Linked DNA regions of Homo sapiens: regions 1, 2, 4, 5 and 6 are each reported to be linked to region 3. The links are microRNA targets in miRTarBase. Many come from high-throughput screens and were not tested one by one. Region 3 holds a microRNA gene; each other region holds the end of a gene's coding sequence.

Region 1 (4,099 bases), not on the chromosome of region 3:
TGCGAATACCATTGAGTATAATTACACAAACCTAGATGGTATAGACTACTATACACTGAGGCTATATTGTGTAGCCTATTGATCCTAGCTTTAAACCCGAGCAGCATGATACTGTTCTGAATAGTATAAGGAAATAGTAACATAATGGTAAATATTTGTGTGATAGGAATTTTCAGCTTGATTATAATTTTTTTTTTTTGAGACAGGGTCTCACTCACTGGAGTGCAGTGGTGCGATCTTAGCTCCCTGCAACCTCCGCCTCTTGGGCTCGAGCAATCCTCCTGCTGTAGTGCACCACGACACTCGGCTAATTCTTTTTTAAGATTTTTCTGCAGACAAGGTCTCACTTACTGCCCAAGCTGGTCTCAAACTCCTGGGCTTAAGTGATCCTCCCACCTCGGCCTCCCAAAGCGTTAGGATTACAGGCGTGAGTCACTCTGCCTGGCCTTGATTATAATCTTATGGGACCACTGTGGTCTGTAGTTGACAGAAATGTCGTTAATGTGGTGCATGACTGTTATTATTATTTTCTGTCCTGCCCCTGAGAGCCACTGTCACTTCTCTGCTGTATTGGTTTTTGTTTACTCATCTGTTTTGGCCTTGAAATGGCCTAGACATTTTTCTTCCCGAAGTATGACACTCGGGTGCTTATTAACTTAGTCAAGACACAACATCTCCCTTCCCAGAAGGTGAGGCGGGAGTGAGGACTTGGGGACTTAAGAACTACCAAAGTTCAGAGTCCAAAGAAACATTAGAAATTGGCTAATCCACCCCCATAACACGCACATTTTACAGATGAGAAGACTGAGCTCAGAGCATAGAAATAGCTTGCCCAGGCCATGACTAAGTCAGGATAAGGAGCTGGAGCTTGTTTCCTCACTCAGTGGTCCTGACTTTGCACCACTCTGCATTTGCCTAGCCTGCCTTCCTCTAACTGTGCTCTCCCTACTTCCAGGCCTCACCTGCAGATGCCCCCCAGCCTGGGCCAGATGAGCCTGCCCTTTGACCAGCCTCACCCCCAGTGAGTGACAAAGCCCCTCCTGACCCCATGTGCCTCTTCTTTCCTGGCCTTGCCCCGCTCTCCTTATTTCCATTGCTGGTTCCTGGCAGGGGCCTGCTGCCGTGCCAGCCTCAGGAGCATGCTGTGTCCAGCCCTGACCCCCTGCTCTGCTCAGATGTGACCATGGTGGAAGACAGCTGCCTGAGCCAGCCAGTGACAGCGTTTCCTCAGGGCACTTGGTGAGTGGCAGCTTGGGAGTGGAGGCTGGGTGGCATCTAGGGGAGTGGGCGCCATGCCTACTCCACTGCTTCTCCCATCTCCTTGCAGGATTGGTGAAGACATATTCCCTCCTCTGCTGCCTCCCACTGAACAGGACCTCACTAAGCTTCTCCTGGAGGGGCAAGGGGAGTCGGGGGGAGGGTCCTTGGGGGCACAGCCCCTCCTGCAGCCCTCCCACTATGGGCAATCTGGGATCTCAATGTCCCACATGGACCTAAGGGCCAACCCCAGTTGGTGATCCCAGCTGGAGGGAGAACCCAAAGAGACAGCTCTTCTACTACCCCCACAGACCTGCTCTGGACACTTGCTCATGCCCTGCCAAGCAGCAGATGGGGAGGGTGCCCTCCTATCCCCACCTACTCCTGGGTCAGGAGGAAAAGACTAACAGGAGAATGCACAGTGGGTGGAGCCAATCCACTCCTTCCTTTCTATCATTCCCCTGCCCACCTCCTTCCAGCACTGACTGGAAGGGAAGTTCAGGCTCTGAGACACACCCCAACATGCCTGCACCTGCAGCGCGCACACGCACGCACACACACATACAGAGCTCTCTGAGGGTGATGGGGCTGAGCAGGAGGGGGGCTGGGTAAGAGCACAGGTTAGGGCATGGAAGGCTTCTCCGCCCATTCTGACCCAGGGCCTAGGACGGATAGGCAGGAACATACAGACACATTTACACTAGAGGCCAGGGATAGAGGATATTGGGTCTCAGCCCTAGGGGAATGGGAAGCAGCTCAAGGGACCCTGGGTGGGAGCATAGGAGGGGTCTGGACATGTGGTTACTAGTACAGGTTTTGCCCTGATTAAAAAATCTCCCAAAGCCCCAAATTCCTGTTAGCCAGGTGGAGGCTTCTGATACGTGTATGAGACTATGCAAAAGTACAAGGGCTGAGATTCTTCGTGTATAGCTGTGTGAACGTGTATGTACCTAGGATATGTTAAATGTATAGCTGGCACCTTAGTTGCATGACCACATAGAACATGTGTCTATCTGCTTTTGCCTACGTGACAACACAAATTTGGGAGGGTGAGACACTGCACAGAAGACAGCAGCAAGTGTGCTGGCCTCTCTGACATATGCTAACCCCCAAATACTCTGAATTTGGAGTCTGACTGTGCCCAAGTGGGTCCAAGTGGCTGTGACATCTACGTATGGCTCCACACCTCCAATGCTGCCTGGGAGCCAGGGTGAGAGTCTGGGTCCAGGCCTGGCCATGTGGCCCTCCAGTGTATGAGAGGGCCCTGCCTGCTGCATCTTTTCTGTTGCCCCATCCACCGCCAGCTTCCCTTCACTCCCCTATCCCATTCTCCCTCTCAAGGCAGGGGTCATAGATCCTAAGCCATAAAATAAATTTTATTCCAAAATAACAAAATAAATAATCTACTGTACACAATCTGAAAAGAAAGACGCTCTAACTGCTCAGATAGGTGCTGCGGTCCAGCCCCCAGCTGGAGGAGACCCTGAGTCCAACCCAGGCCTCCCGAGGGGGCCAGTGAAGGGATCCCACACCCACCGCCCCTATGTAGGGCAGGGAAGAAATTGCAAAGGACTTGGGGGATAGATGGGAATGGGAGGGCAAACTGCAGCACTTGTTAAATTAATTAAAGAAACAAACCAGAAGCACAAAAACGGGGAAGGAGAGGGGAGAAGGAGCAGGTCCAGTGTTCCCAGGCCCCCAATTCTGGGGGCAAATGTTGCCACTTTTAGCTGGACCTTCCCAGGGAAGTCCCCCTTTCCCCCTTGTCCAAACTGAGTCCAACTGCTCACACCACTGGTGCAAACCTAAAGAGAATGGGAGTGTGTTGTGTGAGGGAGGGGAAAACCCCAGATGCCCTGGAGGCAGAGTCCTTGCCCCCTCGCTCTGGGCAGGGGTGAGGGCACCACGCACCCTCCTTGTGTCCTCTCTCCAGGCCTCTGCTTGTTATTGCTTGAAGCCCCACAGTCTTATGCCCATGGAGCAGGTGGGGAGGCAGGAGAAGGGCAGAGGAAGGATCCAGGGTTGTGACTAGATTCCGGGGATGGAGAGCGTGGGGGTCTGTGTGAGCCAGAAGTCTGAGGTCCTGGGTCTGAAGACACCAGTCCAACCCTCACTGCCGGCTGGCCTCAGCCTCCACTTTCACGCTGCTCCTGCGACCCTCCACCAGCGCGGGATGGGGTCCTGGGGCAGGACATCTGTCCAGCAGCCCTTCCTCGAACTCTGCAGGGAAAAGGGGGCAGTTAGGAGACTGCAGGGTGACTGGCTGCAGACAGAGGTGGTTGGGAACAGAAGCAGGGGCAAAGAAAGCTGTGAAGATGGGCTCAGTTTAGGTTTATTGAATTACTGCCTCCTGCCCACTGCATGTGTATGGGGGGTTCCATTCCCATGTGTGTGAGCCCCCTCCCCTCCCTGGCTGTGCGTAGCTCTGTCTCTGTCTGTCTCTCTCTCTTTCTCTCCCGCCTCCTCGGTTGCGCTGGAATTTCTGGTTCTGTCAGGAGCTGCGGGGGTGGTTTGGCTCTGACCTCTCCCCTCCCCCCTTCCCAAGCTCTGCCACCCCCACTCATCCCTGGCCCCCTCCCAGGCCCCTCCCAGGCCACTCTACCATGGCCCCCCAAGTTTTTTGGTAGCCAAATCAGAGGGAGAACAGGAAGCCAGCCTCCGAGCTCCTCCCTCAAGAAGAGCCCCCCTTCCAGTCCCCGCCCCCACTTCCCACCCACGCACAGTTTAAAAATACCAAGCCAGGGTTGGTGGCTTTGTCTGCTGCGTCACTCTCAGCCCAGCGGCTGCCCGGCCCTCCGCCTGCCCACTCCCTCTTCCCCCTTCCACACACAAAGCATCACTG
Region 2 (4,099 bases), not on the chromosome of region 3:
AGATGCAAAGGTTGTGAGGGGGCACGGAGCTTGGTGGATTCACCACAGGCCACGTGGACACTCAGCCTCCCTCACCCTTTCCTTCCTCAACAGCCAAGCGCCCGGCGCCAGCCCGGCCCACCATGCCGCCCCCCCAGGTCTCCGGCTCCCGCTCCTCCCCTCCAGCCCCGCCCTTGCCCCCTGGCTCTGGCAGCCCTGGGACCCCCCAAGCCCTGCCCCGACGTCTGGTTGGCAGCAGCCTCCGAGCCCCCACAGTGCCACCCCCGTTACCCCCCACACCCCCTCAGCCTGCCCGGCGCCAAAGCCGGCGTTCACCAGCCTCCCCCAGCCCGGCCTCCCCAGGTCCAGCCTCCCCCAGCCCAGTCTCTTTGAGTAACCCTGCACAGGTGGACCTGGGGGCTGCCACAGCAGAGGGAGGAGCCCCTGAGGCTATCAGTGGGGTCCCCACTCCCCCAGCTATCCCCCCTCAGCCCCGCCCCAGGAGCCTTGCCTCAGAGACCAACTGAGTGGCTGGTTTCTCCCTAAGCAGCCCTCAGCACCCCCTCCCTCCCCACCTGGCCCTCCCAGGACAGCTCTCGCCCCCCACAAAGGGGCATGGGCCTCCAGCCTTTGCCCACAAGTGCCTCAGTGCCCACTGGGTCGGCCCCCATGGCCAGGAGGGCTCAGGACAATCCTCTATTTCCTGACCTTTTCCTCGTCCACCCTGGGCTTGGGGACCCCCCCACCGGACTCTCCACTCTCCGGCAGGTCCTAGGGGAGCCACCGGAAGGAAGGAGAGGTTTGCCTGCTCCTACGGGACTGATTCTTCTCTTGCCGACATGTTTTTTGTAAGGCTGGTAAATAAATTATTTTGGACAAAACTGGAGCAGCTGCCCAAATGATAGTTTTATTTTCTGTCCTTGAAATAAAGAAGCCAATTTTATAAAGGGGAAAACAATACATATTCTTTGCCTCCTTTCTTCCTGTCTGAAGTGAGATCACAGCAGACATTTTTAGAGCTTTCTCTGCACTACATGCTGTGCTGTTCTGTGGATGATTTCCACTTAATCTTCTCCTACTGCAGGAAATACCATTACCTCTTAGCAGTGAGGAGACTGAGGCCCAGACAGAAGTGACCTGCCAAGGTCACACGGCAGTCAGGCAGGGGCCTGGGATTAGAGCCTAGGTCTGACTCCAAAGCCTGGCTTGTCCCTCACATTCTGGGCAATTTACTTAACTTCTTGGTATCCCTTTTCCTCATTTGTGAAACTTTATAACAATTCCCTCCACAGAGGTATTGCTCTCCATTGAAAACCAAAGCACCACCCTTGGCCCACAGAAGCCCCTACCGCTCCCACTGTTTCCTGGACCCCTCACTCTCCTTCCGGGAGGAGGCTGGGAAGCCTCCCCAAGGAGCAGGGATGGATCTGTCCTCAAACCTTCCCTAAATCTGCTCTGTGCCAGGCCCTGAGCTAGCTCCAAGACTTAACCCTACACCCAAAGAGTTCCCAAACAGACAGGCAGAAGCAACCATTAGAATCAAGTGTCTGGCCAGGCACGGTGTCTCATGCCTATAATCCCAGCACTGGGAGCCTGAGGCAGGAGGATCACTTGAGCCCAGGAGTTCTAGACCAGCCTGGACAACATAGTGAGACCCTGTCTCTACAAAAAAAAAAATTTTAATTAACTGGGTGTAGTGGCGTGTGCCTGTAGTCTCAGCAACTAGGAAGGCTGAGGCAGGAGGATCGCTTGAGCCCAGGAGTTGGAGGCTTCAGTGAGCAGTGATCATGCCACTGCACTCCAGCCTGGGTGACGGTGTAAGACCCTGTCTCAAAAACAAAAAAAATCAAGTGTCATTGCACTGGGAGCCCATATTAGCCAAGTTAGGGGTGGCCATATAACCTAGACTCATGGTATGGGGTGGGTGGTTAAGAACGGCTTCCTGGAGAAGGTGATATTTAAGGGAAGTCTTTCAGGAGCTGACCTGAAGGTGAATTTTGTTTATTTTTATTTATTTTATTTATTTTTTATTTTTTGTTTATTTTTTTTTGAGATGGAGTCTCGCTCTGTTGCCCAGGCTGGAGTGCATTGGCACGATCTCAGGTCGCTGCAAGCTCCGCCTCCTGGGTTCAAGCAATTCTCCTGCCTCAGCCTCCCGAGTAGCTGGGACTACAGGCACCCGCCACCACGCCTAGCTAATTTTTTTCTTTTTTTTTTTTTTTTTTTTTGTATTTTTAGTAGAGACGGGGTTTCACCGTAGCCAGGATGGTCTCGATCTCCTGACCTCGTGATCCGCCCACCTCAGCCTCCCAAAGTGCTGGGATTACAGGCGTGAGCCACCGAGCCCGGCCCTGAAGGTGAAATTTTTAAAGGAAAAAGGAACATTCAGGCCAAGGAGACTATCTATGCAAAGGCCAGGAGCAAAAGGCTTAGGGCACTTGGGGAATAGGAGCTAGTTGAGCTTCCAAGGTTGGGTACAAGGTACAGTTTTTCCCAAGTCGTTGGAGCTCCAGTTGCTCCTGGGGGTCACAGCCTTATCTGAAGTTGGCAGACAACTTCAAAACTGTGACACCACAGCTCACAATTCATTCATCCCCACACTGCAGACCAGTGGCTCCTCAAAGGTCCCAAGACCTGTGGTTGCTTCCAGATCACAAGGCCTCCTCCCTAAGACAGGGACCCAGCCAACCTGGGTCACCCCATTACTATTCTGGGCAATTGGCCACGACCATTCTGGATCCTGCCCTCCCGGGGCGTGCTGCAGTGACAGCCTACCAGCCTCTAGCCCAGTGCTTCCCTACCCTATCCTAGCTCACGGTAGAATCCCTGGAATTAAACCAACTAACCAACAAACCAAAAAATGCCCAGTCTTCACCCAAAACACTTACATGAGGATCTGTCCTGCTACACATCGGTGATTTCAAAAGCATTTGTCAAGACATTGAACTGTACATTTAAGATCTATGCATTTTACTATATGTAAATGATATCTGAAAATAAGTTCCCAGGGGACTCTAACGCAGTGTGAAGAACTACTGGTCTAGACCGAGGGCTCCAGCACCCAAGAAGACACCATGTGCCTCGTACCCCATCGTACACACACGTTTCTTGGGACTTCGCTCTGAACTGGAGCGTCCACGATTCAGGGGGCAATGAGATTCGACCCAAAGGCAGTTCATTTAACATCTGTTTTTCTCCCAGCAACCAGCTCGCCTAAGCTTCTGATTGGCTGGAGGGCACGGGGCCTTTCGCTTCGCGTTTTGTTTGTAGATTCTTATTGGTTAAGAAGAGCGTCAGTCTCCCACCGCGTAAGAGTGTAGTCGGCGTTGAAACTCGGCGGCGACTGGTCCAGCAGAACCAGGGACGGGGAGAAGGATCAAGCTAGCTCTTCATTGGTCCCTTCCCCTCGGTGTTGGCCACGAATCCGCCCCTCTCTCCAAGTTCCGTTAGCTCGCGGCTTCGCTCCTCTCCCAGACTCTCGCCCCCATTGGCTGCAGGCCACGCCGTCGCCCCGCCCCCCGGTCCTTCCAGCGCGCCAATTGGCGGCTGCGTGGAACGTGCCAGGGAGAGCGCGCCGTGCCCGCGGAGAGAGCGCGGCGCGGGAGGCCGGCGGCCGGCCGGCTGCATGGCGCGCTGCGAGAGGCTGCGCGGAGCGGCCCTGCGCGACGTGCTGGGCCGGGCGCAGGGGGTCCTGTTCGACTGTGACGGGGTGCTGTGGAACGGCGAGCGCGCCGTGCCGGGCGCCCCGGAGCTGCTGGAGCGGCTGGCGCGGGCCGGCAAGGCGGCTCTGTTTGTGAGCAACAACAGCCGGCGCGCGCGGCCCGAGCTGGCCCTGCGCTTCGCGCGCCTCGGCTTCGGGGGGCTGCGCGCCGAGCAGCTCTTCAGCTCCGCGCTGTGCGCCGCGCGCCTGCTGCGCCAGCGCCTGCCCGGGCCTCCGGACGCGCCGGGCGCCGTGTTCGTGCTGGGCGGCGAGGGGCTGCGCGCCGAGCTGCGCGCCGCGGGGCTGCGCCTGGCCGGGGACCCGAGCGCGGGGGACGGCGCGGCCCCGCGCGTGCGCGCCGTGCTTGTGGGCTACGACGAGCACTTCTCCTTCGCCAAGCTGAGGGAGGCGTGCGCGCAC
Region 3 (4,099 bases):
CAGATCTAATATCTGCACCTCGAGAACACACCATCCCTTCCAGCCAGGGTGCACAGCAAGCAGCTGGCACAGAGCCCCCCTTCCCCCACTCCATTCATGCCCCTGAAGCGGCAACTTAATTTTCTTTAAAGGGAGATTGGGGAGGGAATGGAGAGACGAAGAGAAGACAAATAGCTGGAGAAAGATAAATACCTAAGTAAGTTCCAGGAAAACACACACAGAGGAAACACACCAATGCTGAAACCGCAATGATCCAGAAGAAGCTAGTGTTTGGTTACCATTTGCTTCAGCATCCCAATTTCCCTGATCATCTTTTGTTTTTTTCTTTCTTTTTCTTTTTCTATTTTTGAGACAGGTCTTGCTTTCTAGCTAGGCTGGAGTAGTCATGCGATCATAGATCATTGCAGCCTTGAACTCCTGGGCTCAAGAAATCTTCCCTTCCCAGCCTTACAAGTAGCTGGGACTATAGGCATGTACCCCTATGCCCAGCAACTTTATTTTCTGTAGACATGAGGTCTCATAATGTTTCCCAGGCTGGTCTTGAACACCTGGCTTCAAGTGATCCTCCCACCTCAGCCTCCCAAAGTCATTGATCATCTTGACGTATTTCCTCTCATTAGCTTGTCATTTTCCAGCAGGATATTCTGCGGTCCAGTTTCCCTGTTCTGCTCTCAAATGACTGACAGGGGGCCGACACCCTCAGGAGTCACCTCCATGCAGATGGGGCACTGGAGCACTGCTCTGTACCTCCCAGCAGAGGTGGTGGAATGAGGAGGATGTGAGTATCCACCTTTTTTAGTACAGGCTCCACGAAAATAAACCATACCACCAAATAAATGGTTTAATTTTATTTCAAAATTGTACAAAATGGCCATAAGCGGCTATAAAAAATTTGTCTTCAGAACATGTGGAAATTCAGAAACAACAAAACAGGTATCATTCACAGTGTAATGGAAAAGCTTTTTCTGAGGCAGGAATTATAACTCTTCCTTCTTTTTCCCTAGTCTTTCATGGTCTCCCTCCCGGAGGGCTCGAATATAATTGGTAAATCCCAATTCCTGCAGGGAAGTGGGAGAGAGAGAGAGAGAAAGAGCTTTAATCCCTGAGCTGGCTGTGCACTCTCTCTCCCCACACCCCCAGCCCCTCCAGGGGGTCACTCCTATGACAGGGAGAGGTGGGCAGACTTCTGCAAGGTGGAGAGGGTCTGCGTGGCTTGCACCAGCCCCGACCAGCAAGTGAGAAAACCCTCGGCATCTGGAGTCCAGCCTGCCTCTGGGGACAGGACATCTGTGGCAACCCCTTGGGACTCTCCTCCAACAATGTCAAGCCTCAGCCAGGCCCAGGGCCTGGGCCTCTCGGTGCAGTGTTCCAGCTGACTTCTGCAGTTTCTGGGATGCTGCCCAGTGCTGCCCCTCCTCAGTGGAAGTTTCCCTGCCCATCAGCAGAGAGAGAGCTCTGGGCAGACGCCTCTCCCCCACTTACTGTGCGGTCGCTGTCATACTTTTCTGCGAACTTCCCATAGTGGTAGTAGTGGAAAGTGGGGTAGCCCTTGACCGCCTCCTGCTGGCACAGGTCTTGGTTCTTGTCTTTGACACAGTCAACAGCGGCACAGGCAATCTAGGAGCCAAGGTAAAGAGAGTTGGCACAGGGTGTCCCCAGGCTGAGGCCTGGACCCCACAACACAGATTGCACATCTAGTCCACGTCACAGGCCCACTCTGATTTTTCTCCTCAGTGGCAGGTAGGAACTGAACCAAAGCACCCCCAGCTCAGGACTCCTTGGAGACTGATGGTGCTTGTTTTCAATTTCCAGATGGGTAAGGTTAGGGGACTCGGCCTGGAGTGCCTTTAGACTGTCCTTTAAAATCAAGAGTATGATGATCGTAAAGGAAATGATGACTTGAAAGCATTTGTAAACACCACAGGTTCTGTGGTGCTATCTGTAAGGGACTGTAGGATTTAATCATTTCTCCACTAATATTTCCGGAACATTAGCTTGGGGGGACAGTATAGTGCCAAGGTTAAGGGCAAGAGCTTTCAAGTCAAGTTCCCCAAGTGCACTCTTGGTTTGCCTGGACAGTAAGACTTAAGGAAAATAACTCAGCCTCTTGGTGCCTCATTTTTTTCAGCTGTAAAATGGGGATAATAATAGTATCTAGGCTATCAGGATATTGTGAAGACTGAATAAGAGAATTCCAGTGAGGCCAGTGAGCACAGAACCTGGCACCAGATTCATGGTCAGGAAATGTCAGCTGCTATTACAGTCACTTCTTCCAACCCCATATACAAGCTCTGTCCCCACTTAGGGGCTCAGTGTCTGGGCAGGGGTTGGATAAAGGGACAATTCCAACATGATGTGATGTGAGGGATGAGGGAGGTGGTCCAGGTGCCAGGTGAGTGGGGCAAAGGCGCTCTGTATGATTCGCCATCTGAGCCAAGACTGGAAGAGGAGGAGACCAGGGAAGCACATCTGGAAACTGGAGGAGCCCCGCATGAGTAAAGCCATCAGAATGTTTGGTCAGAAAGTGGTTCCCACATTGGCCACTGGCCTCTTCTTGACCATCTAGCAAATTCCACATGCTGGGTAGCTTTTCCTCATCATTTGTTGTTTTTTCAAAGGAAGACAGTATAAAGCAGAAATGGGGAACTTGTTTCCGGTTGAGGGTCATGCACCAGGGAAGCCCGAGAAGGGGTCCTCAATGGCCATACCCAGTACAGAGGTGTTATGGAAGATGGGGCAGATTCCCATGAGAATGAGTCCTCCTACCAGGCAACACACACTGAAACCCTGCCGTGTGCCAAGCCTGTTCTAGATGCTGGGGGACAACGTCGACCTTGACAAAGTCCAGTTATCAAGCGTCTGCTGTATGACAAATTAGATCATTTTAGATAGAGCTCAATGAATGCTTGGAAGAAATTAAAAGAGGGTGATTCAATAAGATAATTTAAAATTATTGAATAACCATGATTCACACAGTTCTTTGGTTGATGGTTATTTGCATTTGGACAAAGCCCCTTTCCAGGTAGGAGAATCCTGTGGGCCCCCATGGCCACGTTTACTCATCATGTCCCTCATGCCCAGGTGAGCTGCCAGATGGATAGCTGAAGAGAAGAGTGAGGTGCGGCCTCCCCTGGCCACCAGGTGCCACCTTCACCCCCCTCACCCTCACGCTTCCCTTCTACTCTTCAGCTATGTAACATTCTATACGGTGAGACTTTTAAAATGGAGTTTACAAACTTGCTGCCTGCAATCTGTATCTGGCTCTCAGTCCTCTTCTATTTGGCCCACATTGAATTTAACAACAACAAAAAAAATAAATCTGAATTAGCTCCAACATAGAAATGGAGCCAGAAGATTTAATACAACAATTTGGCTTTCCAGCTTCTCTTTAAAAGTCAGAAGACTTGATGGCACTTACCCTGCAGTCTCACAGGTGACAACTGGCTGGGCAGAGAGGCAGCTGTCCTTCAGGTAGGCTAAACATACCTTCCCCAGCACCCCCTGGAGCCCAGTTCACCCAGGCCAGCAGACTGGCCCCTATGCACTTCTGATAACCGCAGCCCACCTCTAACGCACTTTATTATTTAAAAACATGAGGCAGATGCTCCCCTGGCCAAATTGTGGGGTTCCATTTCTCAGGGCAGGTGCTATGGGGCCCTGCCCAGGGACACGGGCATCCACATACTTTCCTTCCCTGCAGCCAGAGGCTGAGGCCCCATGCCCAGCCCGGGCCAGGAGCTGCTGCTCCGCCATGAAAGTGCTGGATGAACATGGCTCTGGGCTGCTGCTCTCCCTGCATCTGCTTTAAATTATGAATTTAATTTGTATACAATGCCCTGGAGCTATTGGAAATATAGTGTATGGTTTTATAAATCTACTAAATTAGAAATGTATACTTGTTCTGAATCACCTAAACTAGCTGCCAGCCGCACACATGGAATGCAACTTCTAGCTGCAAAGGTGAATCCACGCGCGTTTTCCACAGAAGAAGAGACAAATGCGTCCTCCCCAAAGGCAGCAGCTTAGACTCTTTGGAAAGAAGGCAGCGAATAAAGCTCTTCTCAGCTATTGAAATTTCACCTAAATGCCTGTCCCCTTA
Region 4 (4,094 bases), not on the chromosome of region 3:
GAAAGCATTTTTCAAAACTATGTAAGGACATATGACTTACATTACAGTAATTAGCAACAATTCAGTAATAATCCAAAACATGAATTTTCCTTTTTAAAAAGTACTTAGTATATTTTTATACCTTTTATCTTCCTGTATGTGTGTGTCATTATTTTTAAAATTAAAAAGAATACAGAATGGGGCATCATTTGTGTATTTGCTAAAGGTTTACTATTTTCATTAGGGTCTTCTCTTTTGAGATAGAGTCTCACTCTGTCACCCAGGCTGGAGTGCAGTGGCTCAATCTCTGCTCACTGCAACCTCCATCTCCTGGGCTCAAGCGATTCTCATGCCCCCAGCCTCCCGTGTAGCTGGGATTACAGGCATGCGCCACCATGCCTGGCTAATTTTTGTATTTTTAGTAGAAATGGGGTTTCACCATGTTGGCCAGGCTGGTCTTGAACTCCTGACCTCAACTGATCTGCCCACCTCAGCCTCTCATAGTGCTAGGATTACAGGTATGAGCCAGCATGCCTGGCCAGGGTCTTCTTTTAAGGCATCAAAGCCCAAATAACTTACAAGATGTTAACAAATACATGACATTAATGAATACTCTATCAGAGCACTAGGGACTGAATGCTGGTGTCCCCCATTAAATTCACATGTTGAAAATCTAATCTCCAGTGTGATGGCATTTGAAGCTGGAACCTTCATAAATGGGATTAGTACCTTTACAATAAGAAATAAGGGAGAGATGGTTTCTCCCTCCACCATGTGAACATATAGCAAGAAGGCATTCATCTGCAAACCATGAAGAAGAATCAGCTAGCACCTTGGAACCTCATCAGGAACTTAATTGTCTAGCACCTTTATCTTGGACTTCCCTGCCTCCAGAACTGTGAGAAATATATTTGTTGTCTAAGCCACCCAGTTTATGGTATTTTGTTATAGCAGCCAAGCTAAGACAGCAATTAGTACCAAGAAGTGTGGTGATGCTATAACCAATATATAAAGATGTGGAAGCAGCTTTGACGTTAGGTAACAGATAGAAGCTGGAAGAGTTTTGAGGTACTAGAGTACCTGGAAGAGTACTGGAAGAGTTTTGAGGTACTAGTTTTTTTGCTAGAAAAAGCCAGTATTGCCATGAAGGGATTGATAGAGGTGATTTTGGTGAGGGCTCAAAGAGAAGAGGGTGGGAGAGAAAGCCTCCATCTTCATAGAGAACACGTAAATCACCATGAAGATAATGTTGGTAGACATGGACAATAAAGGCCATTCTGATGAAGTCTCAAATGAAAATGAGGAACCTGTTATGGGAAACTGGAAGAAAGGTGATCTTTGTTATAATATGCCAAAGAACTTGGATGATTGTGTTCATGTTCTAGTGTTTTGTGGAAAGTAAAATTGTGAGCCATGAAATTAGATATTGAACTGAAGAGATCTCCAACCAGTGTTGAAGGAGTGCCTCGGTTTATCTTGACTGCTTAAAGTAAAATGTGACAAAAAATGAAGACAGAATTCTTAACAAAAACGGAACCAGAACTTAAAAGATGTGGGAAATTATCAGTCTGTCTGCATTACAAAAAGATAAGAAAACACGTTTGGTAGAGAACACTAAGAGTGTAGCAGACAAGTCATCCAATTAGATTTATGTGGGTGTGAACCACAGACCTAATCAGCCACCCCAGCAGGAACACTGCTAGTTTGTATTGAAAGGAATGGAGATGGGACAGAATGAGGGAAGACTGTTGGACTTCTTGAATTTGGGACCATAGAGCTATTCAGCTGTGAATGTACACTATTCTTCAAGAAAAGGAGAAACTGACCCGGAACAATGATTCAGAGAACATCAGTGGTACCTTCTCAGTTTCAAAAGGGGCAGTCATTGCCTTGGTTTCAACAGGCCTGACAGCTTCCGCCTGGTGATATGGGGGTCATCCTCCTCCAACATAGTCCTGGGGGCAATACCTCTGCCTCACTGGGTCCTGAAGCCAGAGTATCAGGCCAAAGAGGATTATTACTAAGACTGAAGATCTCATGGTGTTTGCCTTGCTAGGTTTTGGACTTGCTGGGGACCCATTACACCTTCCTTTTTTCCTGTTTCTTGCTTTGGGAATAGGAATGTCCACCCTTTGTGTGTCCCACCATTGTACTGTGGAAGCACATAACTTGTTTCATTTCACAAGTTCAAAGCTGGAAAGGAATTTTACCTCAGGATGAATTCTACCTTGAATCTCACCCACATCTGATTTAGACGAGACTTTGGACTTTAGAGTTGATGCAGGAATGAGTTAAGACTTTTGAGGCTGTCGAGATGGAATGTATGTATTTTGCATGTGAGGAGGACATGAATTTTGTAGGACCAGGTACAGAATGCTATGGAGTGAATCTTTGTGTTCCCCCAAAATTCATGTGTTAAGCCCTAACCTCCAATATGATGGTATTTGGAGGTGGGGCCATTGGGAGGTAATTAGATCATGAGGGTAGAGCCCTCATGAATGGGGTTAGTGCCATTATAAGAGACATAAGAGAGTTGATCTCTCTCTCATGTGAGGACAAAGAAGGACATCTATCTGCAAACTGGGAAGAGGGCCCTCACCAGAAACTGCATTAGCTGATGCCTTGATCCTGAGCGGAATTCCCAGCCTCCAGAACTGTGAGAAGCGTTTGCTGTTGTTTAAGCCATTCGGTTTATGGTGTTCTATTATAGCAACCTGAGCTAAGACATAGGGCTTGGAAAGATATTTAATTTTCTAAACATATCTAATGTTTAGGGTGAGTATTATTAGATCTGAAGACAGACATCTGTCTATGAAATATGTTATTCTAGGCAACTGTGGAATATATTTTCCATCCCTCTTCTCCTACAGATCTATTTGGGAACTTGGAAGTGAAAAAGAATACATGTAATTTAGGTTATCAAGTTTGGTTTCTTAATTTAATTGAATCTATTGCAGCTAATCTCCTATTTCTCATTAAACTTACAGGAAAATAATCAGACTTCATACAATGTAAGTATAACTTGTATAAAATCCAAATGAAGCAGGAATTTTGGTGAAGCAGGGTATGGAGAATATATATGTCTTAAAAATACAATGTGTGAAAAACATAGCCTGTTATGTCTAGAGTTTTGGGGGTATGTGCAGTTATTTCATGTAATGGATTTTTATCAAATACAAGGTATTTTTCCACCAGAATACTTCCTGTGTTTTATTTACTGCACTGAATCCACAGCCTGTCTTTTCTCGTGTCACACTGGAATGCTGTACTTCACATCTTCTTTTTTTTAATGGGAAAGATTCCGAGGATGTCTCTTCTTTCTGAGTATAGATGACTGTAGGTAAAATACATACCTAATATGGAGAAAGAAGTTGCAAAAGTAAGTAAGGTTAACTATTTCTCTGGAAGAAACAATGCTTTTAAAATACAGTCAGAGTGCTGCCCAAATCCAGGGAGAAGACACTTGCAAGGGAGATGTGAGAAGGAATGTTTAAAGAAGTGTCCAGATTTTATGCAGAAAGAGAGGTAAATCAAACTCTTCCATCCTACTTTTTTTAATGCAAGGAATTGTCTTCCTTTCTTTAGCATAGCTCTCTCCACCTTCCTCTAAAGTTTCACATTTTTGTCTTTTCTCTCTATATGTTGTTCATATGTTTGATATCTGTTACCTTCTAGAGATAATCATTATTTTGGAGATTTGTGAAGGTTAGAGCTGGGAAAACAAAAATTTAATAGTGAAAGTTTTTTCCCCAATTTCCTGGAAAATGATTAGGTTTAATGATCAAATTTATTCAAGGGTAAGTTTTTGTTCCATACATTTCTCTTGAGTCTGTAACACCGACTCCCATTTGCCTGATAGGAAGTGCCAGCTTGAAAAGCCAAACAAACAAGAAACAAAATGGATATAAATGGAAACATCAGAAATAGCCAATTCTTCTTAGTTTGACATCTAGGTTTTATTTGTAGATACCTGTGCACATGGTCAAAACTTCTATATCTCATACATAATGCAGCTATATTTTCTGATAGTAAAATTGTTCTTATTTGTACAGTGAAAGTGAAATATATGATCCCATGATGCCCTGCAAAAAGCATTATAACCTCCAGGGGCTTTA
Region 5 (4,099 bases), not on the chromosome of region 3:
GGCAGCTAGTCCCTGAGCACGTCGTCATGACCAAGGAGGAGGTGACAGAGCTGCTGGCCCGATAGTATCCTTTCCAGCCCCACCGGCCCCGCCCCTCCCTGTCCCTCGAGACTTCCGCGTTCCCCCCCCACACACACCCCTGCCCCCCCAACGGCCCTGTCTGGCATTTTCCTGACGGTGCTTCGCAGTAAGCTCCGAGAGAACCAGCTGCCCAGGATCCAGGCGGGGGACCCTGTGGCGCGCTACTTTGGGATAAAGCGTGGGCAGGTGAGCCCTGTGGGGAGAAGGGGCCCTGGGGCTGCTCTGAGCTGACCACTCGGAGAAGGGGGCTTCTGTCCCTCCCCGACAGCCCCTCCCCCTTGATCCAGGGCCTGGAGGGGACCTCGAGACCACACCCCCAATATCCCCCTCTTAAAGCCAGGGCCACTGGGCCCAGAGAAGAGCGTGACCCAGGTTCCCAGGGAGCGGGTCCCACAGCCCAGGGTCAGCCATCTCGGACCCCTGCCGGCCATCCCCAGCCCGTGTGCTGCCCGCCTGCTGTCTGGTGACTGCAGTGAGACCCCTCAAGCATTCGCAGCCCCTGCTCTCTGTCTCTGCAGGTGGTGAAGATCATCCGGCCCAGTGAGACGGCTGGCAGGTACATCACCTACCGGCTGGTGCAGTAGCTACCGCCTGACAGGTGAGACGGCCGAGGGACAGGCACTGAGGTGGGGTCAGAGGCAGGGGTGTCGTCCCCTCCGTCGGTGTGCAGGGCTGTTCTTGCTTTGTCCGGCAGCAAGACCCTCCTAGCACCAGCCCAGCTGGGCCACCAGGCGCTCCCAGGACACCCCCAGACCCCCAGACCCCACCCGACCGTAGGCTGCAGCTCTTGGGGCTGTGCGCCTGGACGGGAGAGTCCTGGTACGCGGGGCGTGCGTCTCTCCGCCGCTGACCCACCTTAGAAGCAGGAGACGTTCACCTGCAGGGCAGTTGTGCGGCGGGACTTTCCAGAAGAGGGTTTAGAAACCTGCCCAGAGACCCCAGAGCTGAGAGAGGAGGCACAGCTTCAGGCCAACCCTTCCCTGAGTGGGCACCTTGGGAGGGACTGGCCGGAGTCTCAGGAGCGGGACAGCCTCTGCCCATGGCGAGAGCCTCCCAGCTTCCCCTGGACTCTGGTCATGGCGAGCTGCTGTCCTGCAGGCCGCCCCACTTCACACTCAGCCCAGGGGTGGGGCTTGGCCTGGTCTGACGCTGGCACGGTTCCTTTGAGGTCAGAGCTACTGCCCACGCCTGTGTGACCGCTGGGCACAAGGGAGCCGTCCGGCCTCTGCACTGCGGCCTGGGCCGCCTCCTGCCAGGCCTCCCGCACCCCGTCACGTTCGGTGGGCGTTGTGCTGTCCTGGGCATACTGGATCTGCCCCTGTCGTGTGACCACTCTCCCCCTTTCCTAGCCCCTAGAGGCGGACACACAGCGACCCCCATCCCTGCAGGACAAACGCCCCTGCCCTGCCAGAATCCGGCCCCCACAGCTCTCACGGCTGCTGCTCCTCTGGACTCCCCAAGGCAGGTGGCCTCCACCCACGTTCTCCCGTCCTGGGGTGAGGCTTCCTGTGGCCCAGCCCGCCCCATTCACCTGTGGATTTGTGCGAGATGCAGCCTCAGAAGGAACAAGGCCCCCAGAGGGAGGTCACCTGGGGGCAGCTGGTGCCGGGTCTTCACCCAGACCACGCTGGGTCCCCTCTGTTGGGGGTTTGGGGTCCGGGTCTCCCACCAGCCACTGCTTCCTCCTGGGCCCTCGGCCTTCCACCCCTCGTCTTCCCTCCCTCGGGGGCCCTGATGCGTGGCGGCCCCCGCCCGGCCTCGGCTCTTTACTCCATTCACAGCCATGCACGCGCTCAAGCCACCAGGGTGCGAGATGCCAGCTCTGGAGTTCTCGGTTGTTGTAGGAGGTTGGGTGTTTTCAAATGGTAAAGATGTTTTGAGCAAATAAATTTGCTTGATACAGAAACCAGGCCGACTAACAAGGTTTCCAGCAGGTGGCCTTGCCTCACCCCAAGCACACGAGGTCAGCCTGGCAGGTGTGCCCTCCTCGCGCTGGCTTCAGGGGTCAGTGTCTCCCCAGGCCCTCGCCCTGCCCTCCCACTTCGTGCTCCTGGGTAAGGCGTGAGCGTGTCTGTCTCTTCCCTTCCCGTGAGGGTGTGGAGTTGTTCTCTGGCTTGTGCAGCTGTGGTTTGCGGCCAGTTCCTCTTACAGACGTTTGGGATCTGGCTCTACTTCCCCGTTTGCTTACTGTCTGATTTCAGAAGGCCTCGCCTGCCCAAGTTTAACCTAGCCACGTGGTTCTCTCACAGTAGCTTTATTAAGATGTAATTCACCCTCGGGCGGTCGGTGGTCTGTAACGCGCCCACTGTTCTGTGCAGCAGGGTCCCCAGATCCCCAGGCCGCGGACTGTGTGTGTGATGGGGACAGTGCTTCCCCTTCTCTCCAAATGTACTTTTTTCAAAATTGTCTTGGCCAAAGCAAGCCAGACCCAAAGGGACAAACACTGATGTCACTCCTAGGAGGTCACTAGAGTCGTCAGAGACTGGAAGTAGGATGGGGGTTCCCGGGACTGGGGAGTTGGGTGGGGATGGGGGTTCCCAGGGCTGGGGAGGAGGGAGGGGACAGAGTGTGTCATGTGCACAGTTTTAGTTTGGGAAGATGAGAAAATTCTGGAGGTGGCCGGGCGCGGTGGCTCACGCCTGTAATCCCAGCACTTTGGGAGGCCGAGGTGGGCGGATCACCTGAGGTCGGGAGTTCGAGACCAGCCTGACCAACATGGCAAAATCCCATCACTGCAAAAAATACAAAAATTACCTGGGCGTGGTGGTGCATGCCTGTAATCCCAGCTACTTGGGAGCTAAGGCAGGAGAATCACTTGAACCCAGGAAGTGGAGGATCGCTTGAGCTCAGGAGTTAAAAGACCAGCCCGGGCAACACAGAGAAACCCCCCACCTCTACAAAAAACTTTAAGATTACCTGGGCACAGTGGCTCACACCTGTAATCCCAACACTTTGGGAGGCTGAGGCGGGAGGATCATTTGAGCCCAGGAGGCCGAGGCTGCAGTGAGCTACGATTGTGCTCCTGTACTCCAGCCTGGGCCACAGGGTCACACCCTGTCTCAAAAAAAAAAAAAAATGCAGTTCCACAGGCGCATGGGCCACGTTTCCAGTGCTTGGTGGCCATGTGGGGCTGACGTGCGAAACCTTAGAGCCGGGGGATACGTCCGTCATCGAGAACGTTTTCCTGGACTGCCCTGGGCTGCAGGTGGACGTGACGAGGTCATTCGATGCCTGACCGTCTGCACAGCCTGTGGTGAAGACCACCCGGGCTCCCACCTCGCGGGGCCCCGTGGCGGGGGGTTCCCTTCCTCACACATCCCTCCCCTAGGGGGAGGCCCAGGGCCACGCCACGGGGCTCTCTCTGTCCCCTCCCTGGCCCCTTCTTCTAAGCTTGCAGCTGCCACAGAAAATCTTCTAAGCTTGCAGCTGCCACAGAAAACACCCGATTAAAAACTTTTTATTTCAGCAAAATAAACGTGCCTGTGAAAGAACCACACGGTGGCTTCCGAGAGACCCCACTGTGTACCTGAGCCCCAGGTGGCCACACCTGGTGTTCTGGAAAAGGGAGTCCAGGGCCAGTATTCAGGCCCTGCTGTACTGCACCCTGGAAACTGCACCAAACCCCAGCTCCGCCCCCATCCACGGCTCCCAGAATGGTTTCTGGAGTCCCTGCAACAGACCTGTGAGGAGAGGGCAGGGCAGGGCCTGCCTCCTGCGTCCCCGTGATGACCTGGGGGATGCACTGGGCAGGGACAGCTTCCTCCATCCACACAGCCCTGTGGGCACCAACAAGGCCACTGTGACTTCACACGACAGCAGTGTTCCCCAGCTCAGCTGAGCCGGGGTGCAGGGGACAGCACAGGGCACAGTCCTGTGCCGCAAGGCCCTCGTGCTCCTGGAAGCCTCTGGGAGGAGGCGCCCGCTGGTGGGACGTCGAAGTCCAGGCGCTCTCGGCAGCGACCCCAGGACGGCGCACCTAAGCTATGCCGTGGTGCAGGGGACGTGCTGGAGGGACAGG
Region 6 (4,009 bases), not on the chromosome of region 3:
GTCCAAATTCATATTCTAAAAGATGCTATCTCTTACAAATTGAGGTGGTTTCTGAGGAGGGGTGGGGGCTGGGCCAAAGGGTCGTCAGTGACCCCTCCCTACAGCTCTCTGACCCATGTCTCTGTCTCCATCCCACCCTCACTAGTGCCTCCATATCTGGGACCTGGATGTGCGTGGCAACCATCGGGGCCTGTGGAGATTGTTTCGGAAGAAGAACCACTTCCTGATGGTGGGGGTCCCGGCTTCCCCCTACTCGTGAGTGACCCTTTTCTGCCCTGGGAAACAGGAGGCCTAGTGAGATCCAGGGATATAGCTAATGGCTTCTTCTCTATACATTCTTGTATTATTTTCCCAGAGTGAAGAAGCCACCCTCAGTCACCCCAATTTTCCTGGAGCCACCCCCAAAGGAGGAGGGAGCCCCAGGAGCCCCAGAACAGACATGAGACCTCCTCCAGGACCCTGCGGGGCTGGGTACTGTGTACCCCCAGGCTGGCTAGCCCTTCCCTCCATCCTGTAGGATTTTGTAGATGCTGGTAGGGGCTGGGGCTACCTTGTTTTTAACATGAGACTTAATTACTAACTCCAAGGGGAGGGTTCCCCTGCTCCAACACCCCGTTCCTGAGTTAAAAGTCTATTTATTTACTTCCTTGTTGGAGAAGGGCAGGAGAGTACCTGGGAATCATTACGATCCCTAGCAGCTCATCCTGCCCTTTGAATACCCTCACTTTCCAGGCCTGGCTCAGAATCTAACCTATTTATTGACTGTCCTGAGGGCCTTGAAAACAGGCCGAACCTGGAGGGCCTGGATTTCTTTTTGGGCTGGAATGCTGCCCTGAGGGTGGGGCTGGCTCTTACTCAGGAAACTGCTGTGCCCAACCCATGGACAGGCCCAGCTGGGGCCCACATGCTGACACAGACTCACTCAGAGACCCTTAGACACTGGACCAGGCCTCCTCTCAGCCTTCTCTTTGTCCAGATTTCCAAAGCTGGATAAGTTGGTCATTGATTAAAAAAGGAGAAGCCCTCTGGGGATGTCTTGTGATTGTGATTTTGTGTGTCAGGGGGGTGCTGGAGGGAAGTGGTGGAGAGAATACTTGTGTTGGATGGTGAGTTTTCCTTACTGTCCTCCACAGAGTTTATCTTCCATTTGGGGCCATTTGGCCACCAGGGGATGCCTGAGTCTCAAACTCCAAGGTTTTTCCCCAACTCTACCCTAGGACAGCTTGACTTTAGCCCCGCCCTACTTGAGGCTTGGAGCAGCCACCCTACCTCTTCCCCACCGTTTAACCACCAGCCGGGTTCCTGCTTATCTTGCCTGGGCCGGGCACCTGTCCCCAGAGACAGAGCAGGAGAGAACAAAAAGGGATACTGGGGAGTTGGAAGAGGAAATGAGAGAGCAGGTGTGCATAGTAGGGGTGGGAAGGAAGTGGATGGGACAGGACTGGGCAGGCATCATTCAAGAGACGGGCTAGGGTGCAGATGGAGATGTAGGAGCAAGGGTGTCTATGGCCCTTAGAGCACTTTGCTATTCAGAATTCTCTATCTGGGCATTTTTGTGGAGAAATGGGTCATGGTCTTCATCAGATTCTCACATAGCCAGTAACCCAAAGAGGTTAGGAAGATCTAAGTTAGTCATAGGGGCACCAGAAAATGGATGGGATTGTCCAGAGGGAGTGAATGAGAAAGCCTACGGCAGGGAAAAGAACATTTAAGGGATCTGTGAAGGGCCTAATGTCAGGAGGATGAGTGTGGAGCACCTCTTCAGAAAGGGTCTGCCTGCCTCTGTACAAGTACAGAACTCCAGCTGGAACTCCAGCCCTCCTGCCTGCTCTCTGCCCTGCCTCTTTCACAGGTGCTTGGAGCCCAACTCGGTGACAGCATGGGTGGTATGTCGCTTGGACATATCTCGCCACCCTGACGCCTTCAGTGTTTGTTGGAGCTGGATATAGTGCCTGAGGTGGCACAACAGCCAGGTTGAGCAGCAATTAGCCCATGATGAGGTAGAGGCCCGCCCTGGGCAAACAAATCCCATGCAGCCTCCACACAGGCACACGGCAGAGGAGAAGTGTGAGAGGCACAGTATGGTGGTGAAGGGGTGAGGCAGGCTAGCTCCTCCCCCTGTCCCGCACCCTAGCAGGCTCCTGGTCTGGCCCTCACAGACCAGCTCTAAGGCACTGTTTGGTTCTGGCCAGGTCCCTCTTCCTTTCTGGGCTCAGCAAGGGGGTGGTGGTTCTGGGCTGCCCTGGAAAAGCTCAGGAAGAGAGTTACAGGGGTCAAAGGGAAGTAAGGAGGGGGACTGGTTTGTTAGGCTGGGCTTTGCTTGGTAGCAGACACTGTACCCTCTTGCCATAGCCTCCCTCAGGCCTCTCACTCCTGGCTCAACAGTGATCAGGTCTATATCAGACATTCTGGCCAGCTGCCCCTTCAAGTGGAACTAGTACCATGTCAGCCAGGACTACACCAGGTGCTGGAGTTCTGGGCCCAAATCTAGGCTGAGCTCTTCACAGAAGCCTGTGGGACTGGGGCAAGTATCTTGGCCTTTCCGATCCCTAGTTTCCTACCTGGAGCATAGGGATAGTTAGGGCTAAAGAAGAGATGAGGTCTAGGTCAGGTGAGGTGGCTCACGCCTGTAATCCCAGCTCTTTGGGAGGCTGAGGCATGTGGATCACCTGAGGTCAGGAGTTCGAGACCAGCCTGGCCAACATGGTGAAACCCTGTCTCTACTAAAAATATAAAAAGTTAGCCGGGCGTGGCCGGGCACGGTGGCTCATGCCTGTAATCCCAGCACTTTGGGAGGCCGAGGTGAGTGGATCACGAGGTCAGGAGATCAAGACCATCCTGGCTAACACAGTGAAACCCCGTCTCTACTAAAAATTCAAAAAATTACCCGGGCGAGGTGGCGGGCGCCTGTAGTGCCAGCTACTCGGGAGGCTGAGGCAGGAGAATGGCGTGAACCCCAGGGGGCGGAGCCTGCAGTGAGCCGAGATCGCGCCACTGCACTCCAGCCTGGGCGACAGCGAGACTCTCTCAAAAAAAAAAAAAAAAAAACACAAAAATTAGCCGGGCATGGTGGCAGGTGCCTGTAATCCCAGCTACTCAGGAGGCTGAGGCAGGAGAACTGCTTGAACCCGGAGGCAGAGTCCGCAGTGAGCCGAGATCACACCATTGCACTCCAGCCTGGGCAACAAGAGCGAAACTCTGTCCCAAAAAAAAAAAAAAAAAAAGAAAAGAAAAGAAAAAGAGGTGAGGTCTGAAGAACACCAGGTAGGCCAGCAGCAACGAAAAAATGAAGTGCTTGCTGAGATCCCAGAAGCAGGGACAGATCTGGGGTTTTGCCTGAGTGGGAAAGGCAGGCAGCCTGGACCCTAGGAAGGGGGCTCCTGAAGGGCTTCCCAGAACCTAAGGAGTGACCCTTTCCCATTGCCCTGGTAAGAATTCGTCACAAGCTTGTTATTTTCATAGCTTTCCAGTCCAGTGCCCCTACCCAGGAGGGGGTAGTTTCAGTCCAAAGTTCTCCCCTTTATAAGGAGGCAGACTGGCCTAACCCAACTGTACTTCTTCATGCCCTCTCAGCCATCCCTCTTAGTTTCCCTCCAAGGCCTGGAACCCAAATGAAGGGGAGAAATAACCACTTCTGACCCCCAACCCCACCCTACTTCCCTCCTTTCCAGGGCCTTCTGAGTTGGCAGCCCCACAGGAATCCGTGGCCAGTTTAGGCCCCTCTCCCCAAGGATACATGAAGAGTCCAACTGGCAACATTGTAACAGGTTTATGCATTTTGAAGTGCCTTCTACACATCCACCCAGAGGCTCTGCTGATTTCACTTATGCCCAGGCTATAAAATGCCTTTCTCTCATCCCCCAGTAGAGCACTGGGATCACCACTAGGCCTAGGGGGCATATCAAGGGTTTAATAGACTGGGGGAATGGGCAACAGAACTGGCTACCTTAGAGGCTCTGGAATGCCCCCCACCCATCCACCCACCAATGGAAGGAAAGTCAGGCATCGC

The links. The annotated mature microRNA hsa-miR-7110-5p reads UGGGGGUGUGGGGAGAGAGAG and lies in region 3 at 1,119-1,139, opposite strand. An mRNA with a match to its seed (bases 2 to 7 or 8) in the 3' UTR can be bound and repressed. Matches are read on the target gene's strand: a 7mer-m8 pairs with bases 2 to 8, a 7mer-A1 pairs with bases 2 to 7 and ends in A, and an 8mer does both.
Region 1: miRTarBase lists NAB2 as a target of hsa-miR-7110-5p. Seed matches in the 3' UTR shown: 7mer-A1 at 3,309-3,315.
Region 2: miRTarBase lists SH3BP1 as a target of hsa-miR-7110-5p. Seed matches in the 3' UTR shown: 7mer-m8 at 537-543.
Region 4: miRTarBase lists HACD4 as a target of hsa-miR-7110-5p. Seed matches in the 3' UTR shown: 7mer-A1 at 3,111-3,117 and 7mer-A1 at 1,908-1,914.
Region 5: the mRNA of POLR2E is a reported target of hsa-miR-7110-5p. Seed matches in the 3' UTR shown: 7mer-A1 at 1,454-1,460.
Region 6: miRTarBase lists POMGNT1 as a target of hsa-miR-7110-5p. Seed matches in the 3' UTR shown: 7mer-A1 at 481-487.

Annotation. Positions count from the first base shown.
Region 1 is chr12:57,093,990-57,098,088 of GRCh38, reverse strand. NAB2 (NGFI-A binding protein 2) reads right to left here. Exons shown (of 7, transcript NM_005967.4): 7 at 2,613-3,477. The coding sequence ends at 3,368. STAT6 (signal transducer and activator of transcription 6) reads left to right here. Exons shown (of 22, transcript NM_003153.5): 20 at 956-1,021; 21 at 1,111-1,239; 22 at 1,328-2,681. The coding sequence ends at 1,517. Among named protein-coding and RNA genes, the nearest start is that of NAB2, 6.9 kb to the right of the region's middle. RefSeq lists enhancers at 1,649-1,768, 1,446-2,282, 2,827-3,357, 3,849-4,099, 3,890-4,099 and a silencer at 3,784-3,853.
Region 2 is chr22:37,655,179-37,659,277 of GRCh38, forward strand. SH3BP1 (SH3 domain binding protein 1) reads left to right here. Exons shown (of 18, transcript NM_018957.6): 18 at 94-939. The coding sequence ends at 506. It overlaps PDXP (pyridoxal phosphatase), which reads left to right and starts at 3,545. Exons shown (of 2, transcript NM_020315.5): 1 at 3,545-4,099. The coding sequence starts at 3,605. PDXP-DT (PDXP divergent transcript) reads right to left here and starts at 3,199. Exons shown (of 6, transcript NR_109952.1): 1 at 3,077-3,199. RefSeq lists enhancers at 3,102-3,171, 3,182-3,231, 3,420-3,921 and silencers at 3,422-3,731, 3,932-4,041.
Region 3 is chr3:123,158,839-123,162,937 of GRCh38, reverse strand. MIR7110 (microRNA 7110) reads right to left here and starts at 1,144; the gene lies at 1,059-1,144. PDIA5 (protein disulfide isomerase family A member 5) reads right to left here. Exons shown (of 17, transcript NM_006810.4): 16 at 1,483-1,617; 17 at 834-1,058. The coding sequence ends at 978.
Region 4 is chr9:21,003,788-21,007,881 of GRCh38, forward strand. It overlaps HACD4 (3-hydroxyacyl-CoA dehydratase 4), which reads right to left. Exons shown (of 7, transcript NM_001010915.5): 7 at 1-3,332. The coding sequence ends at 3,250. Among named protein-coding and RNA genes, the nearest start is that of HACD4, 26 kb to the right of the region's middle.
Region 5 is chr19:1,086,052-1,090,150 of GRCh38, reverse strand. POLR2E (RNA polymerase II, I and III subunit E) reads left to right here. Exons shown (of 8, transcript NM_002695.5): 5 at 6-64; 6 at 189-267; 7 at 600-679; 8 at 1,431-3,577. The coding sequence ends at 665. It overlaps ARHGAP45 (Rho GTPase activating protein 45), which reads right to left. Exons shown (of 23, transcript NM_012292.5): 23 at 3,523-4,099. Among named protein-coding and RNA genes, the nearest start is that of POLR2E, 7.3 kb to the left of the region's middle. RefSeq lists enhancers at 1,096-1,195, 3,762-4,099.
Region 6 is chr1:46,185,704-46,189,712 of GRCh38, reverse strand. It overlaps POMGNT1 (protein O-linked mannose N-acetylglucosaminyltransferase 1 (beta 1,2-)), which reads left to right. Exons shown (of 22, transcript NM_017739.4): 21 at 146-255; 22 at 356-1,030. The coding sequence ends at 443. TSPAN1 (tetraspanin 1) reads right to left here. Exons shown (of 9, transcript NM_005727.4): 9 at 3,751-4,009. Among named protein-coding and RNA genes, the nearest start is that of POMGNT1, 11 kb to the left of the region's middle.